Linked DNA regions of Homo sapiens: regions 1 and 3 are each linked to region 2. The links come from fine-mapping of genetic effects on gene expression. A gene starts in region 2. Each other region holds a variant in brackets. All regions are shown on one strand. Distances are from middle to middle.

Region 1 (6,237 bases), 38 kb before region 2:
CTTTTAACTGATTCAGTTAATTGGATTAATTTTGATACCCATAGCCAACTAAATATAAGCTGAGACACAGAAATTTTCACAATTTTTTTAATGCCATAAAGCAATTCTCAAATTTGGAGTTCACAAGGTTTGAGAGATGGGGTAGGAGAGGGTTGAAGCCAAGTAAATTTACTATTTAACTATTTAAAATATTTAATTTAAATAGTTATTTAAAATAACTATTTAAAATAATTTTACTATCTAAAATAACTATTGGGCTAAAGCGGAATAATTCCCATAGATCAGCTGCAATTTCTGTCCCAGTAAGTTGTCCAATGTGATTCCTCACTCCCCTTGACGTCTCCTGCTTCATGGAAGAAAATAATTACATGGGAAAATTGGAGAACTTGCCTGCTGCTCTAGAATAGGCTCAACCCATCTTTTTCCAAAACAGCTCTCCCTCCCACTCACTTCTCTGCTGAAACAGCAAGAACGAGCATGTGGGAAGTCAAAGACATGGGAGGATGATTATCAATATATGCTGTCTGAAGGAATAGCCAGTTCTGAATAAAACAGGACAAGTCCTGAATAAGGACTACCTACAGGAAGAATAGATAGGGTCTTGAAAGGGCCACAGACCTATAGGACAATCACAATGTTTAAAAATACCTGTTGCTATAGCAATGTTTAAGTTTGAATATGCAAGCACTATATCCAATGGTTAGGCATTTGACAAAAATCTTACCCATCTCAACTGGATATGTAGGTTTAAAGATAAGGAAATAATCTATACAAACCAAAAACTGAGAGAGACTTACATTTTCCAATCCATCCTGCTCCAACCTACCAAAAAGAGGGGGAAAACATTATACCATCTAATGTGAAATCACTAATACAATTGTTTTAATTAGAAAAAAGTCAGCTCCTCTACTAGCAGTATTAGAATTCAAGGCAACAGGAGATGAAAATAATACAGCTCTGTAAGAGTCCACTGGCCCCCATGACTTTGCACTGCTCATGTTATCGGAGCACAAACGTAAAACAGTACAATGAAGTAGAAATGCATGTAATAGAAAAGAATGAATCTGATGTCAGAGACCAAGGCTTGATACAAATTTGTCTACTGACTACCCTGGCCAAATTATGTGATCCAAGTTTCCTCAAATGTAAAATAAAAATGACAGTACATATTTCATGTGGTTACCATGAAGCAAACAATATAAATAGTACACTGCCTAGCATATCATGAGATCCAAATAAATGTCCCTCTTGAAGGACCTACTGAATTACAAAGAAAACCAAAGCCAAATAAAATGAGTATTTGACTTAGTGAACTACATATACTCATTTTAATGAAACATCTTTATGCAGAGATAAGACAAATGACCAAATAATAACTGCTACCCAGAAAGATAAATTTTCACTGCTATAATTTTTTCTAGAGGTCATTCAAGAAAAATCCTAAAAAAAAAAAAAAAAAAGTCTGATGAGTCTGATGTAAAGAAAATCTGTTTGTCACTTCAAACACCACAACTACAGTGTACCCAAACTTACCACAAAAATTTCATATGCATATGATAGAAGAAATGTATCAGCAGACATCTTAGTGGCTCTAAGTTCAAGGGTGTGGCTTTTCATCATCCTTTGCCTCTATATTAATATGCCTACACCTTTTATGATACAACCAGTCAGCCTTGATAAAGTTACACTAGACAAATCAGCAGTGGTTTTGATAACAGGCAAAATAACTACCACTTTTTACTGTATTTTGGAAGCGAAGTAATAAGCTACAAGTTCCTCTCAGGTGCTAAAAACAATTGCTCCAGCTGAGCCAAAAAATATTTGTATCTGCCACTCTAGATATCTATCAGAACTTCAAAAAGTGGCAATTTACTTTCAAGGTTTAAGTCAGGATATTATGCACAGCTCTTAGTATAGTTTATCAATCATGCATGCTAAATGTTCCTCACTAAAAATGTTCACAATATAGTAAAAGAAAACAGCAACATAACAAAACTTCATCTGCAGCATTATCCTAATTGTCTGTGTGTTTGGGTGTATAAAACGCCTATCTAGGCCAGGTGCGGTAGCTCACGCCTATAATCCCAGGACTTTGGGAGGCCAAGGCGGGCAGATTATTTGAGGTCAGGAGTTCCAGACCAGCCTGACCAACATGGTGAAACCCATCTCTACTAAAAATACAAAAATTAGCTGGGTTTGGTGGTGGGTGCCTGTAATCCCAGATACTCAGGAGGCTAAGGCAGGAGAATCACTTGAGTCCGGGAGGCGGAGGTTGCAGTGAATGAACCAAGATCACGCCACTGCACTTCAGCCTGGGCAACAGAGAAAGACTCTGCCTCAAAAAAAATAAAAATAAAAAATAAAACACATATCTAATAAAAGACTGGAAGGAAAAACATAAAAATATTCATACTAGTTCTCTCTGGATAGTGATAATGTAGGCAATTTTTATTTTATTTTTTATATGGTCTTATATATTCGAAATTTTCACAAACAGCACATATTATTTTTGTTCACAAAGTTAGTAATAAACATAACTGTAAAAGATAAATAGTTTTTAAAAATTCCTTAATGAGGTAAAAGTAGAGCAGGCAAAATTCTGAATTACAGATGGCTTGAGATTATTAAATTTTCCTCTTCTATAAAACAGAGTTGTAAAGTTCTTTCTACCTCTACTATGCCACAATTCACACCCAATGGCTGTGATTAGGAAAGTGGAGGTGCATATATCTGCTCAGAGATATGCAAACTGTTTTTTTTGTCTTAACTTACCCATCAGCTTTTCATTCAAATGAAATAAGCTAATATATCCCTCACTTTAAATTGAGCCAGGTTTACAACAGGTTCTGTATACAACAGGTTCATTATTACCACAGATAATTTAAAATGGGGGGGGGTCTAATATACAACAGTTTAGGCTAGAAAAAAGAGATCAAACTCAAATGAGTAATCAAAAATATATAAATTGGCTTTAAAAGGTCTAAAAGAACTTTCATCAAAGAGTGAACAATGGATCTCACTGCATGATGGGATTATGTGTGGATAATTATTTTTATAATAAACATTTAAAGCTCTGCAATAAAAAAAACAGAAAAGTTCATTTTTTATGTAAAAATAAATAATGTTATATTTATTGACCTATCACACAAGATTAAATTCCTGCTATACTGATAATTAAAATTGGTGGTTGAGTGCTATGTATTAGGCCTTATGCCAAGGGTTTAAAATATGACTTGTAGTTGTCACAAGAAAGCCCCAGAAAACTAAAGCTCACGAAGGTCAAATCTGCAATTCCCAGAATAAGAATTCAAAATCTGGCCTGGTTGACTCTAAACTCCAAGCTTCATCTTTCCACCTTATCATTCAGCTTCTTAAATAATGAAATTCCCCACATTTTGACCGAACAGATCAAACCAGCCACATTTTCATTTGGTAGGAATGTTACAAATGTAGAACTAAGTAAAAACAGAATTTATAAAGTTACTATTACTTTCCAAAAAATGGATATTAGTCAACACTTTTAATTATAACATAGACACAATATTTAAAAATATACAAGTGATGT[C/G]CACTGGTACAGATTTTTACAAATGTAAGCAACTGGAGAAAACTAATAAGAGAAAACAGGAAGGTGCAAATACCTCAAACAAGCCACCATTCTCCTCACAACTCTCGTGACAAAGCCAAAGGACAAGAGGTGCCACATACTCTGGCTTCAGGGCTTCCACAAGATCTGAAATAAAGAATATACACATATCTTATCAATCATTTTACTTTCTAAGAATTTCTTACTTATAAAATTATAGGTAATTCAGAGACCTTTAAAATAGGAACAAAATTAGTATGTATATAACTAGTCTAACATTTAAGTCTTTGCGAAGAACTTTTTGTAATCTCAACTGAGCCATTTCTAAAGGGCTCTCAAGCTTCTAAAATTGTAAGTATCAGACACACCTTTCCAAGATGAGTAACATATTAATACTGTTCAGAAGAAGAAAAGTTAGAACTGCCTAGACAAAGATTGGTGAGCAAAACTGTATTTAACATGAGAAATCTGGGTACCATTCATTCCCAAAATTATTCTACTCTCCCAGCTATTAACAACAATCTAGAAAATCACAAAACAGCCTAGACCATTACAGTGGCAAATAATGATTGAGAGTGCTGAATCCTAACCACTAGACCACCAGGGTAGGCAGATAATGATTGAAATAGACCTTGAAGACATCACTGGTGAGTGCACAAAGTATAAGAACTAATTTCCCACTGCATATGTTACCTTTTGAACTTTTTAAAAATTAATATATAATAGTTGTACATATTTTGAAGGTGCATGTGATATTTTGATACCTTATACAATGTGTAACGACCAAATCAGGGTAACTGGTATATCCATCAACTCAAACATTTATCTTGTCTTTGTGTTGAGAACATTATAAATCTTCTCTTCTAGCTATTTTGAAATACACAATAAATTATAGTTATCTATAATTTCTCTATTGTACTATCAAATACTAGAATTTATTCCTTCTATCTAAGCTTACTTTCGTAGCCCTTAGCCAACTTCTCTTTACCACTGCACCTTTTCTGTGAGTACCTTGGTGAAGCAGAAAGGTACTACATGAAGAACATGAAGACTTTGATTTTGGTACTGAACCTGCTATGCAAGCAACTTAGGAACCTGAGCCCATCATTCAACTTCCCTGGGCCTGTATCTTCATCAGTAAGCTAGTAATTTAAATGCTTCTGCTTCCTATTCCACCAAGTTGTTCCAAGGCTCAAATGAGATACAATTTGTGTCTTACAAATCATACAATTTTATCTAAAAGATCAAATAAATGCAAAAATTGTGAAATGACAAAATACAATTTTGTATTAATGTGTTAAAGTAAAAAAGATGGTGTATATAGTCCTGTAAATTAAAAAGTAGTTGCAAAAACTCTTCACTTTATAGCCTCTAAAAGCTCTCAAAAGTACACAAGCATTCCAATGGCACCCTGTCTTCCATTTTTCATTATATGCACGAGGAAAAAACAAAAGGAAGACTCCAACCATCTCAAATTGTACATTAAAACAAATTATTAACTTAAATATCCATTCATCTCAATACATAACATTCCTCTAATTTCCCATACATCAATTGACAAAACTAAATGTTAAAGGATATTTATGTACAGGGATTTGGATATTTGAGTTGGCTAACTTCAAACTGAATGAGAAATAAACATATCTATAAAATGCAACAGAGTATCTATTACCTTACGTGAGAAAAAAGAAAAGAACATAAGCCACATACAAAAAAATACGTCTGCCTTGCAGTTTATTTTATATATTATCACTAATAATATAAGCAAATATTCTTGCTTTCCAGTTCATTCTCAAACTCCTAGGTTAGCCAGCATCTATTAAACTCAATGTTATAAATAAAAAACCAACCTTAAGAGAGTAAATAAAAGATCAGAGAAGTCCCATAGCTATTAAGATATAAAGTTATATGAAATCAAAAATAGAAAGGTTTACTTACTCAACCCAGTGTTTCTTCCACAATACTAGATGTCAGGATATCTAGCATTACAGTGAGCCAAGTACTCTGAGGAATACTTCTGCTTCCAGAAATGAGATTCTTTTAAAGCATTACTGAGATAAAGAAGGTATCCTCCAACCAGAAAAAAAAAAAAAAAAAATAGAAAAGAGTCCCTAGTGCTACATGCTACAGGGAAGGCAGGGTTGCCCTGAGAATGATACAAATAACAATACTGATACCTAGGTACTCAGAGATAGGCCAGCATCAAGATGGGGTCCTAAACCTAAACTGTTCTACGCTGAACTTCAACTTTTAAGGAAGACTGAAGCAGAACAAAATTGGCTATGCTTCCTGGTAATCAGCAGTAGCAAAGACAGATCCTCTCTGAAGAAAACATTGCCAATTTAGAACACAGAACAAATACAGAAAAAGATCAGGTAAAGAGCTGGTAATTAGAAATCACCAAGCACACAATGAAGGGAAGCCACTATGAGTAAAAGTTAAAAGAAACAGCAGATTTGAACTACAATGGAATAGAAATGTTGGAATTTAAAATATATTATAAAGAAAAGTTAACTATTGATTAGCATTTGTACCCTTCCTGACTCAACAATTTTACTTTGAAGTACATATCCTAGAAAAATTCTTGTTCTTGTAATCCAGAACACATGTACAAGAATAAAAGCAGATTAATTAAAAAGCAACCGATATGTTCA
Region 2 (6,237 bases):
TTGACCTCGTGATCAGCCCACCTCGGCCTCCCAAAGTGCTGGGATTACAGGCGTGAGCCACCACCATCCCCAGCCAAGAGAGAAGTTTTATAGGCATAGAGTATCTCGGGAAAAACACATTAGAAACTGGCAATTAGTGGTTACCTCTGGAGGACAGAACTATGTGGCTAGCAATAAGGGGTGGAAGGCTTACTTCTGGATTGTTTTTCTGTATTGTTTACATTTTTTAATATGTGTATATTTTTTACATTTTAAGTTAATTGATAAATTTCATTGACAAATGAATAAATTTAATTAACAATTTATATTTAGTATAAATTAATCAATAAGTATACAAATAACAAACTGAGATACATAAATTATTAGCCCCTTCCAAAAACAACCCAAGGCCAGGAGTAGTGACACACATCTGTAATCCCAACACTTTATGAGACAGAGGTGGGCGGATCATTTGAGGTCTGGAGTTCAAGACCAGCCTGGCCAACAGGGTGAAACCCCGTCTCTATTCAAACCACAAAAATCAGCTGGGCTTGGTGGTGTGCACCTGTACCCCCAGCTACTTGGGAGGCTGAGGTAGGAGAATTGTTTGAACCCGGAAGGCAGAGGTTGCAGTCAGCCAAGATCATGTCACTGCACTCCAGCCTCGGCAACAGAGCAAAACTCCCTCTCAAACAAAAACAAAAAGAACCAAAAATATACAGTTTTCCAAAACTAGGAAATTTCACCAAATAACTTATTTTAGAATTTAATCCAAGCAGAAGGATCACTTGAGGCCAGGAGTTTGAGACCAGCCTGGGCAACAAAGCGAGACTCCATCTCTTGAAAACATTTAAAAATTAGCTGGGCGTGGTGGCACATGCCTACAGTCCTAGCTAGTCTGGAAGCTGATGCAAAAGGATCACTTGAGCCCAGGAGTTCAAGGTTACAGTGAGCCATGATCGGGTCACTGCACTCCAGCCTGGGTACAGAGTAAAACCTTTAGCTCTGAAAAAAAAAAAAAATTTAATCAACTCTGAATGGGTAAGAGAGAATTTAACCAGTTTATGAACAGCAGGTGCTAAGTTCATAACTGTCTAGTCACAACTCATTGTTTCACAAAATCAATTTTGTGGGTTACAATTACAATTTATAAATAAAACAGAATAGAAAATAAATTTCAGGATGCATTGCCTGTACTACACACTATATCATGAACTGGTTTTAAATACAGATGTATGTGCTTGTGTAAGTGTACTGAGTACTGGTGTAAAATGTACTGCATACCATGTGTAAGTATGCTAATGGTGTCAAAAGAAGCAGTCCCTATCCTTGAATGATTTTCAGATATAGCCCCTGAAAAGGAAAGTCTCCTTAGCGATGGCAAAAACGTCTTAGAATGTAATCCCTGGACCTCCTGCATGAAAATTATCCAAGAGCTGTCAAAAAAGATTTAAAACACCAAGCGTTGTAAAATACATTATTTACAATAAAAGCAAAGTGTAAACAAAATGTTTTCCTAAAAACATTTAGAAGGTATGACTACACCCAAATACATGCCCATGCAGAGATAACCAGACAGCTATGGGTATAAAATACTTGGCTATTCATCAACACTGAAAGCATTTTCTGAAAGGCAGCATAAGAAGCCACTTTATCAATACAGATATGAAAGTACATAGGAATTAATTGACAGAATTCCAGTTTGTAACGTTTAATATATAACTCAAATAATTCATGCATTAGGGCCTTTCCAGGTATAAGGTACTACCAGTGGAGAATCAAAGGTGCATAATGTCAAGATCCCTGCACTTGGAGGTTACAGAGGTCACCCACTGGTGAGAAACTAATGTAAAATCTCACTGCACAGCATCTATGTTGGTATGAATGGTTTGTTTTAATTTTTTGTACTTTAAAAAATGGGGCTATTTCACATAACAATTTTCCATTTTGCCGCTCCTGAAATACAGGCAACTTTCCCACTGGCCGGTCCACTTCGGAATTCTCTGCTCTCCAGTTCCTCAGATGTGCCCATCCTACTCCCATTTTCTTTCTCCATCATACGCCTGACCCCTGTGCGCATTTGAGCTTACAACCTCTGCCAAGACTCCAGTGGATTTCGAGAACAGATTGTGACTTGCTAAGCATACAAACTCCAACGGGGAAGGGCTCTTATCAGACGCCCTCTTTAAAGAAGGTCCTCTCACGAACTTAAAATCTTACGACAGAGGGAAACAAACACTGAACGACCGAATGACTTTTCAGGAGCTGACATCTCTGCGCTTCAGGGGGCGAATTCCAGCCCCCGCCCCTCGCGGCTTTTCAGTCCTTTAAAAGACTAGGCAAAGATCTAAGAGAGTTAATTGCAGGAAGAGTAACAATCGATGCCCACAGATAAGGGTCAGGGAGAACTTTCACCCAGTTTTGCAATCAGCAGCCCAGCCTGGCCTCTCCTCTCAGGCAGGACCTTGGGAAGCCCACACCGGGGTGCTGGGGAGAAGCGGGCTGTACCTGCTTGAGAGACCAGGTGTTTCCGGCTCTTTCCTCCTCAAGAGATGCGGTGCCTCAAGAATAACCATTCCCCTCCCCACCACCTCAGCGGGGTGACCTCAGCTGCGGCTGCGCGCGTATGCCGGCCCGAAAAGAGCAGCCAGCTGCGCCTCAGCAAGGGGCGCGGCCTCCAACCTTCGCATGCTCACCTGCCCCCGCGCCGGTGACCAGTACCACCCGCCCGTCGAACCTCAGCGGTGAGCCCATGAATAAGGCCTGCAACGACACACACACGAACAAGCAGAGCCGCTGGACGCCGACTGCGGGACAGGAGGAGGCGGGGAATGGCGGGGGCGGGACGAGGGTCAGTGACTTGCCGATTTCTGGTAGGAAGATGAGCGCAGAGCGCGCGGCTCCCTTGGAATCCTGGGAAATGTAGTTAAGAGTGACTCCACTCGCTGGAAGACTTGCCTTCCAGGGGCCATTTCTGCGGCTGGAAGCAATGGGAGCTGCTAGGACTTGTGTAGAAGAATAGTTAACTCGACACCTTGCGTTCATCTATTCACCTGTCGTTTCATCATTCACTCAATAAACGTTTTCTGGGTTTAGTTGCTGACCTAGAGAAACAGCATGCGGCCCCTATCCTTGAGGGGCTTCCAGAGATAGCCCCTGGGAAGGAAAGTCCCCCTTAGGGATGGTAAAGATTTGTCAGTGTAATAATCCCTGCACTTCTACATGCAAACATCAGGGGACTGTCAAAATGCAGAGTCCTGGACCCCCACTGCTTACCTCCCAAAATAGAATCTCAAGGGGCAAAAACATTTTGACAAGTGTTCCTAAATGATCTTGCGTTTGTATGTTGAGAACAGTCATAGTTCAATCAACATTTACTGAGCATCTCCTGAGTTTTGATAGGATCCTCAAGCTACTCAGAGTCAGATGGTAAACTTTCAATAACGGTGCAGCCTAGACTTGTGACCAATGTGTGTAAGTGAGCTAATGGTGTCAAAATAAACAGACCCTATCCCCGCTGGGGAGAAAGAGGAAAAACTTTCTGAAGGAGGACCAGGACCTAAAGTGGCGACCCCTGCAAAGAAAGAAGGGCATTACAGGCAGCACAAACACTAGCTAGGTTTGGGGAGAAAGAGGGTAAAGCCACAAAAGCAAAGCCAGCAAGATCATGTTTAGATGTTTGAATTTTGTGCTGAAAACGGTTTTAAGTAGGATTACTCCAGAGAGTGGTGGGAACACATTTACACTATGGAAAGATCACTTTGCCCATTATGGAGGATTGATTGGATGTTGCGGGAAGTCATGGACCCCAAACAGAGGGACCTGCTAGAGCCGCAGCAGAGGAACATAAATTGTGAAGATTTCACGGACATTTATCAGTTCCCAAATAATACTTTTATAATTTCTTATGCCTGTCTTTACTTTAATCTCTTAATCCTGTTATCTTCGTAAGCTGAAGGTGTACGTCACCTCAGGACCACTGTGATAATTGTGTTAACTGTACAAATTGATTGTAAAACATGTGTGTTTGAACAATATGAAATCAGTGCACCTTGAAAAAGAACAGAATAACAGCAATTTTTAGGGAACAAGGGAAGTCAACCATATGGGCTGACTGCCTGCGGGGTTGGGCAAAAACAGCCATATTTTTCTTCTTGCAGAGAGCCTATAAACGGACGTGCAAGTAGGGAAGATATCACTAAATTCTTTTCCTAGCAAGGAATATTAATATTAATACCCTGGTAAAGGAATGCATTCCTGGGGGGAGGTCTATAAACGGCTGCTCTGTCTTATGTGGTTGAGATAAGGACTGAGATATGCCCTGGTCTCCTGCAGTACCCTCAGGCTTACTACGGTGGGGAAAAACCCGGCCCTGGTAAATTTGTGGTCAGACCAGTTGTCTGCTCTCGAACCCTGTTTCTGTTGTTTAAGATGTTTATCAAGATAATACATGCACTGCTGAACATAGACCCTTATCAGTAGCTCTGCTTTTGCCCTTTGTCTTGTGATCTTTGTTGGACCCTTATTAGTAGTTCTGCTTTTGCCCTTTGTCCTGTTCCCTCAGAAGCATATGATCTTTGTTCTGCTTTTTGCCCTTTGAAGCATGTGATGTTTGTACCTACTCTCTGTTCTTACACCCCCTTCCCTTTTGCAACCCTTAATAAAAAACTTGCTGGTTTGAGGCTCAGGTGGGCATCACGGTCCTACTGATATGTGATGTCACCCCCGGCAGCCCAGCTGTAAAATTCCTCCCTTTGTACTCTTTCTCTATTTCTCAGCTGACTGACACTTATGGAAAATAGAAAGAACCTATGTTGAAATATTGGGGGCAGGTTCCCCCAATAATTAGAGGTGGGCAAGGAGAACATAGAAAAGATTTGGGGGAAATTATGGAAACCAGAAGTAAGGCAGAGGAAATGTTGAAGAAGAAATGTTGAGATAAACTGTATTTGCAAATGGAACTGACAGGGATAGAAGGCAGGGAAATTCTGGGCAGAAGAGGGCAGGTCCCCAGTGAGGGCTCCAACCTCAAGCCTGAAAACACAGCCCAAAGTGAGAACATGCATCCCTGTTTTCCCTCTTGAATGTTGCCTTTTCCAAAACCACCTATGGTCCCCCTGCCCCCCATCCTGTGCCCATAAAAACCCCAGGCTCCAATGGCAGAGAGGAGAGGAGAGAAGAAACAGCTCGACTTCAGAGGTATGGCTTAATGGCGTTGCTCCTGGGGAAGATCACCTTCTCACTCCATCCCCTTTTCAGCTCCCCTTCCCATTGACAGCCACTCTCATCGGCAATAAAATCCTCTGCATTCACCATTATTCAATTTGTTCCTGTGACCTGATTTTTCCTGGATGCCAAACAAGAGCTCAGGTGCCACAGGTGTGACACTAAAGGCTGTCACACTGACCCTCTGCCCTCACTGGCAGAGAGCAAGTGCCTCACACCAAAAAACAGAGGGCCTACTGAGCTGTTTAACATTTAAGCCATCAGTGGATGGCAAAGTTAAAAGAGCACTGTAACACACACCCTCTGGGGCTTCAGGGGCCTTAGGTACCCCTCTAGACACTGCCAAGGGCCACATAGAGTTTTGCTCCTGCATGCACTGGCCCCAGCTCCTGCACCCACTCACCTGTGCTCCCCGTTCCTGTGGAACGCAGTGGGACCCAGTGAATGGAGTCCACCCCTGCCAGACCCAAAGCGGCCAGCTAGTTCTAGATCCTATGTGCTCCAGTTCCTGCCCCCACCCATGAAGGGGTCAGGAAAATTTCCTGCTTCAGAACTAGTCTTTTTGATTAATTAGATGTAGATATGAGAAAAGAGCAACTGAAATAATCCTATATTTTGATTTGAAAATCTAGATTACGATGGGCCATTCATCAAAATAAATAGTGGAGAAAGAGTGGCTTTGGAGGGGTTATGGCTTCAATTTTAGACAAACTGCATCTGTGAAGGGGAAGCAAAACTATGGCTAGAGACACCTAGCAGACAGCTATGGTTCCAGAGCTCTGACAGCTTGGTTTCTGTTATAAATAAAGTTTTGGTGCCACAGAAGAAATAGCACTCGAATATAAAATTTTTTTTTCTTCTCAGCAACGCAGTTTACTTCTATAGAAGGTTGCACTCTCACAGATGGAGCAATGGTGAGCGCACACCCGGACAAGGGAGGGGAAGGGGTCCTTATTCCTGATGCATGTGGCCCCTGCTGCTGTGTCATTCCCCTATTGCCTAGGGTTAGTCCACACAGGTTAAACTAATTCC
Region 3 (6,237 bases), 240 kb before region 2:
TCCCTCTTTGCTGATAATATGATTTTACATCTAGAAAAACCTAAAGACTCCACCAAAAAACCTCTTAAATTTGATAAATGAATTCAATAAAGTTGAAAGATACAAATTCAACATACAAAAATCAGTAGCATTTATACACACCAATAATGATCCAGTCAAGAAAGAAATCAAGAAAGCAATCCCATTTATAATAGCTACCAAAAAAGTAAAATACCTAAGAGTAAATTTAACTAAATAGATGAAAGATCTCTACAACGAAAATTATAAAACACTGGTGAAAGAAACTGGAGATGACAAAAACAAATGGAAAAATTCTCATGCTCGTGGATCACAAGAATTAATATCATTAAATTGACCATATTCCCCAAAACAACTTAGAGATTCATTGCAATTGCTATCAAAATGCCAACATCATTCTTAAAGGAAATAGAAAAAAAATGGGCAAATAACCAACCTGGCAAACAGCCAAAGCAATTCCGAGCAAAAGGAATAAAGCTGGAAACATCAAATTACCTGACTTCAAAATATATAATAAGGCTACAGAAACCAAAACAGCATAGTACTGCTATAAAAACAGATACATAGACCAATGGAACAGAATAGAGAACTTATAAATAAAGCCACATATTTACAGCCAACTGATCTTTGAAAAAGCTGATAAAAATTTATATTGGGAACACCCCTTGTAAAGGGCCACCATTTTCAATAAATGGTACTGGGAAAATATGTTATATAACCACGTGCAGAAGAATTAAACTGTACCTCTATCTTTCAACATATACAAAAATCAACTCAGGGTGGATTAAATACTTAAACATAGGACACAAAAATATAAATATGCTGGAGAAAACCCTAGAGAACACCCTCTTGAACTTCAGTCTAGGCAAAGAATTTATGACTAAGACTTAAAAGCACAGGCAACAAAAACAAAAATAGAGAAAAGGGACTACAAATTTGAAATCTTCTGCAGAGCAAAGAAAATCATCAACCGAGTAAAGAGACAGCCTGTTGAGTGGAAGAATATATTTAGTTGGAATGCCAAGTTTGATGACACATACCATGAGGCTATGAGAAGCTTTATTACTTACCTGAGGCTTTCTGGGAAGCAGGGCTGGCTTCCCAAGCTGAACTGAAAATGGCTTGCAAGAACAGGGAAAGGAGACTGGCATGAGGTTTTTATGGTGGTTAGGGGCTGAGGCTGGCGTGAGGGTTCCTGTGCCCAGGCAGGGGCTTATGTGATTTGAACTTCCCACAGGGGCCAAAGGAGGAAGTATCCAGGCTTTCTTATCAATGTGCACAAAACTGGGGCAGAAGGGAAAGAGGGAGGGGTGGGGCTTAAGCTATCAGCAGTCAATCTTCAAAAAAATGAATCAAGCTCTTCATTACATTGGGCTGCACTTACGATCTTTTATATAAGGCTATGAGACAGAGATCTGTTACATAGATGCTGTGTGTGCCCTAATCTCCTTCAAAGAGAACATGTGGCTTAAATGGAATAAAAATAAGGGCACATCAAACTCTTTGGGGGGAAAACTACTTTTATAAATACACAGCATTATCAAAATCATTATTCCTCTTCAAGGTATTTGACTTTTTAAGTCATTTCTAAATCAGCTACGGGCAGCGATAAGGTTTGGCTTTGTGTCCCCACCCAAATCTCAAGTAGAACTGTAATCCCCACGTGTCAGGGGAGGGACCGGGTGGGAGATGATTGGATCATAGGGGTGGATTTCCCCTATGCTGTTCTCATGATAGTGAGCGAGTTCTCACAAGCTCTGATAGTTTTAAAGTGTGGCAATTTCCCCCTCACTTGCTCTCTCTTTTTCTCTCTCCTGCTACCATGTAAGATGACATGCCTTGCTTCCCCTTTGCCTTTCACAATGACTGAAAGTTTCCTGAGGTCTCTCCAGCCATGTGTAACTGTGACTCAAGCCTCTTTTCTTTATAAATTAGCCAGTCTCAGGTAGTTCTTTATAACAGTGCTGAAACAAACTAATACAGGCAGGGATATCATTTTTCTGTTTAGAAAACCAACTTTAGAAAGGCTAAGTGCTTTCACGATGTCAGAAGTATTATCAAAGGGTCAAAAGATTTTATACTTAATATCTCTCAGTCAGGACATTAAGACAACTCTCAGAGCCTTTATGTTTTATATAAAATGTTAGATTAGAGAAGCTCATTATTTAATTGAATTAATAGAAATAACCACTACATTTAAACCCTCAGAAAATAAAGCTGCAGATCTTTGTCAAACAAATGGTGATAATAATTGTAATAATAGCAGCTAACCCTTATTGAATGTCTTTAAGTTTCGAGAACTCTTCCAAAGACATTATAGTTATCCTCATAACAAGTCATTGGATTAAATATTAATATTCCAATTTTGCAATGAGGAACTTGAAGCCCAGAAAGGTTCAACAATATGACCAACATCCCA[T/G]AGTGGCTGAGTGAAGAAGTGAGAATTCAAGCATAAAGCAGGAAGACAACGCATTAGATTAAACATTTCAAAGTTGTATTTTAGTTTGGAAAACACAGATTGATTTAAACTAAAGAATAGGAAGTGCCACACTGCCTCTCATTTTAACCTAGTTAGGATAAACTTTTATTCTGTTCTATTTAATTTTTACCTCAGAATATTAGGGGTAGAGCATCCAAGAAAGTAAGTAGCCAAATGAGTAGGCATTAAACAGATTAATTATTTGAGCTTTTACAATTCAATGATCACATCAATGTCAATTTGGAATTTAGTCCTGTATGCCCTGTTGGGTCTTCAAAGCAATTTTCTTGTGCTGAAATCCATGTACAGTTATATAGTGAACTAAGAGGAGGCACTGATTTCACAAGTAACTACAGACTGATGAGTTAAAAAAAAAAAGTTCAACCACTGTTTAACTTTCAACTTTGGAGAACTTAATATAAAATGAACAGTTCTATATATGATTTATATTTCAGGGCACTCTCACACACATCTCATTTAATCTCCTCATTGACATAGTTCTAATAACAGAAAATGTACATCAACACATGTAGAGCAAATAACTTACATAATCAAACTATGTGTATGCTAATGTAAAGGAGTGTGCCAAATACATTTTATAACCCATCTTACATCCCCTTGGCCTGTCACTTTACTCAAGCCATTTATGTGGCAATCAGTGGTGCCTCAGATACATCTTGATAAAATGACCCTCAAGCTGCACTGCCTCTCATTTGTTTTCTGCCCCAGGCTTCTCTGTCCAGTGAGGTTTGGTCTATGCTGAGTCATGAGCAAACCTAGAAGTGTGAGAGCATTAACAACCCTGGAACAACCTTCGATCAAAGAGGATAGTAACTGGTAGATAAATATTTCCATCTTCCCCATGAGAGGTGCACACATCCCCATGGATGGATGATTCTGAAGCACATTGTATAGAGAAGCTTTGACCTCCATCTCCCCCCAGACGTTTTCTTAAAAATGCATCCTTAGATGGGCTGTCTTCCTTCCCATTTCACTCTTCCCAATTCATCACGCTTATTCTGCTTTATTGGATTAGGTTATGATAGTTAACAGTGTACATATATATATATACACTATATACATGGGAACTATTTCTCAAGCCATTGACATAGGATCTGCTTTATGAAGGAATTCAAGCCAAATCAGAGCATTTAAGTAACTTACAAAAGAGACTGCTAATATTAGCATTAGAATTACAAACCAGGTCTTCTATCTCCTTAGAGTATGATATGGTTTGGCTGTGCCCCCAACCCTCCAAATCTCATCTTGAACTGTAGTTCCCATAATCCCCACGTGTCAGTGGGAGGTAATTGAATCATGGGGACGGTTTCCCCATGCTGAATGAGTTCTCACAAGTTCTGATGGTTTTATAAGCATCTGGCATTTCCCCCACTGTGTCATTCTCTCTCATGCCACCCAGTGAAGAGGTGCCTTCCACCATGATTGTAATTTTCCTGAAGCCTCCCCAGCCATGCAGAACTGTGAGTCAATTAAATCTCTTTTGTTTATAAATCACACAGTCTTGGGTATTTCTTCATAGCAGCATGACAACGGACTAACACAGTACGTTGCTACTGCAGAGAATAGGACAATTATGTAAAGATACCCGAAAATGTGAAAGTGACTTTGCAATTGGGTAACACGCAGAGATTGCAACAGTTTGGAGGGCTCAGAAGAAGAAAGATGTGGGGATGTTTGGAACTTCCCAGAGACTTGTTGAATGGCCTTGACCAAAATGCTGATAGTAATACAGACAATGAAGTCCAGGCTAAGGTGGCCTCAGATGGAGGTGGGAAATGTGTTGGGAACTGGAGTAAAGGTCATTCTTGCTCTGCTTCAGCAAAAAGACTGATGGCTTTTTGCCCCTGCCCTAAAGATCTGTGGAACTTTGAACTTGAGAGAGATGATTTAGGGTACCTGGCAGAAGAAATTTCTAAGCAAAGCATTCAAGTGAAGATAGAGTATAGAAGTTTGGAAAATTTGCAGCCTGACAATGCAGAAGAAAAGAAAAACCCATTTTCTGGGGAGAAATTCAAGCTGGCTGTAGAAATTTGCTTAAGTAATGAGGAGTCAAATGCTAATCACCAAGATAATGGGGAAAATGTCTCCAGGGCATCTCAGAGAACTTGGCAGCAGCCCCTCCCATCACAGGCCCAGAGGTCTAGGAGGGAAAAATGGTTTCCTGGGCCAGGCCTAGGGTCCAGGGCCTCCCTGCTGTGTGCAGCCTCTGGACTTGGTGCCCTGCATCCTAGCTGCTACAGCCATGGCGAAAAGGAGCCAAGGTATAGCTCAGGCCATTGCTTCAGAGGATGCCAGCCCAAAGCCTTAGCAGTTTCCACACTGTGTGGGTCCTGCAGGTGCACAGTAGACAAGAACTGAGGTTTGGGAACCTCCACCTAGATTCAGAGGATGTATGGAAATGCCTAGATATCTAGTCAGCAGTCTGCTGCAGGGGCAGAGCCCTCACGGAGAACCTCTGCTAGGGCAGTGCAGAAGGGAAATGTGGGGTCAGGGTCCCCACACAGAGTCCCCAGTGGGGCACTGCCTAGTGGAGTTGTCAAAAGAAGGCCACTGTCCTCCAGACCCCAGAATGGTAGATCCACCAACAGCTTGCACCATGCACCTGGAAAAGCCACAGACAGTCAATGTCAACTATGAAAGCAGTGAGGGGGGCTGTACCCTGCAAAACCACAGAGGCAGAGCTGCCCAAGACCATGAGAGCCCACCTCTTGCATCAGCGTGCCCTGAATGTGAGACATGGAGTCAAAGATCATTTTGGAACTTTAAGGTTAAATGACTGCCCTATTGGATTTTAGACTTGCCTGGGGCCTGTAGCCGTTTTGTTTTGGCCAATTTCTCCCACTTGGAACAGGTGTATTTACCCAATGCCTGTACCCATATTGTCTCTTGGAAGGAACTAACCTGTGTTTGATTCTACTAGCTCATAAGTGGAAAGAACTTGTTTGTCTCAGATGAGACTTTGGACGTGAACTTTTGAGTTAGTGCTGGAATGTGTTAAGAATTTGGAGAGGAGGAGCCAAGATGGCCGAATAGGAACAGCTCCGGTATACAGCTCCCAGCATGAGCAACGCAGAAGACAGGTGATTTCTGCATTTCCATCTGAGGTACCGGGTTCATCTCACTAGGGAGTGCCAGACAGTGGGCGCAGGCCAGTGTGTGCGTGCACCGTGCGCGAGCCGAAGCAGGGCGAGGCATTGCCTCACCTGGGAAGCGCAAGGGGTCAGGGAGTTCCCTTTCCTAGTCAAACAAAGGGGTGACGGACGCACCTGGAAAATCGGGTCACTCCCACCCGAATATTGCGCTTTTCAGACTGGCTTAAGAAACGGCGCACCACGAGACTATATCCCACACCCGGCTCAGAGGGTCCTACGCCCACGGAATCTCGCTGATTGCTAGCACAGCAGTCTGAGATCAAACTGCAAGGCGGCAACGAGGCTGGGGGAGGGGCGCCCGCCATTGCCCAGGCTTGCTTAGGTAAACAAAGCAGCCGGGAAGCTCGAACTGGGTGGAGCCCACCACAACTCAAGGAGGCCTGCCTGCCTCTGTAGGCTCCACCTCTGGGGGCAGGGCACAGACAAACAAAAAGACAGCAGTAACCTCTGCAGACTTAAGTGTCCCTGTCTGACAGCTTTGAAGAGAGCAGTGGTTCTCCCAGCACACAGCTGGAGATCTGAGAACGGGCAGACTGCCTCCTCAAGTGGGTCCCTGAACCCTGACCC

Which allele goes with the higher level. Positions count from the first base shown, and alleles are read on the strand shown. Sizes are in standard deviations (SD) of each study's normalised expression. Not every link is listed here.
For the expression in Th1/17 cells of the gene that starts at base 2,812 in region 2, G is the high allele of the variant in region 1 and C is the other (large effect, 0.91 SD a copy in Schmiedel 2018).

What was found. PIP is the estimated chance that this variant, and not a neighbour inherited with it, causes the effect.
Region 1: its variant is the best candidate, but not a certain one, in a credible set for the expression of HSD17B4 in Th1/17 cells (Schmiedel 2018, PIP 0.75).
Region 3: its variant is the best candidate, but not a certain one, in a credible set for the expression of HSD17B4 in stomach (GTEx, PIP 0.56).

What each region holds. Positions count from the first base shown.
Region 1 is chr5:119,486,685-119,492,921 of GRCh38, reverse strand. It overlaps HSD17B4 (hydroxysteroid 17-beta dehydrogenase 4), which reads right to left. Exons shown (of 24, transcript NM_000414.4): 9 at 3,639-3,730; 10 at 798-822. Among named protein-coding and RNA genes, the nearest start is that of HSD17B4, 37 kb to the right of the region's middle. The variant C/G (reference allele first, on the strand shown) is at 3,566.
Region 2 is chr5:119,449,072-119,455,308 of GRCh38, reverse strand. It overlaps HSD17B4 (hydroxysteroid 17-beta dehydrogenase 4), which reads right to left and starts at 2,812. Exons shown (of 24, transcript NM_000414.4): 1 at 2,676-2,812. The coding sequence starts at 2,733. RefSeq lists an enhancer at 2,662-2,711.
Region 3 is chr5:119,690,105-119,696,341 of GRCh38, reverse strand. No RefSeq gene overlaps it. Among named protein-coding and RNA genes, the nearest start is that of FAM170A, 64 kb to the right of the region's middle. The variant T/G (reference allele first, on the strand shown) is at 2,438.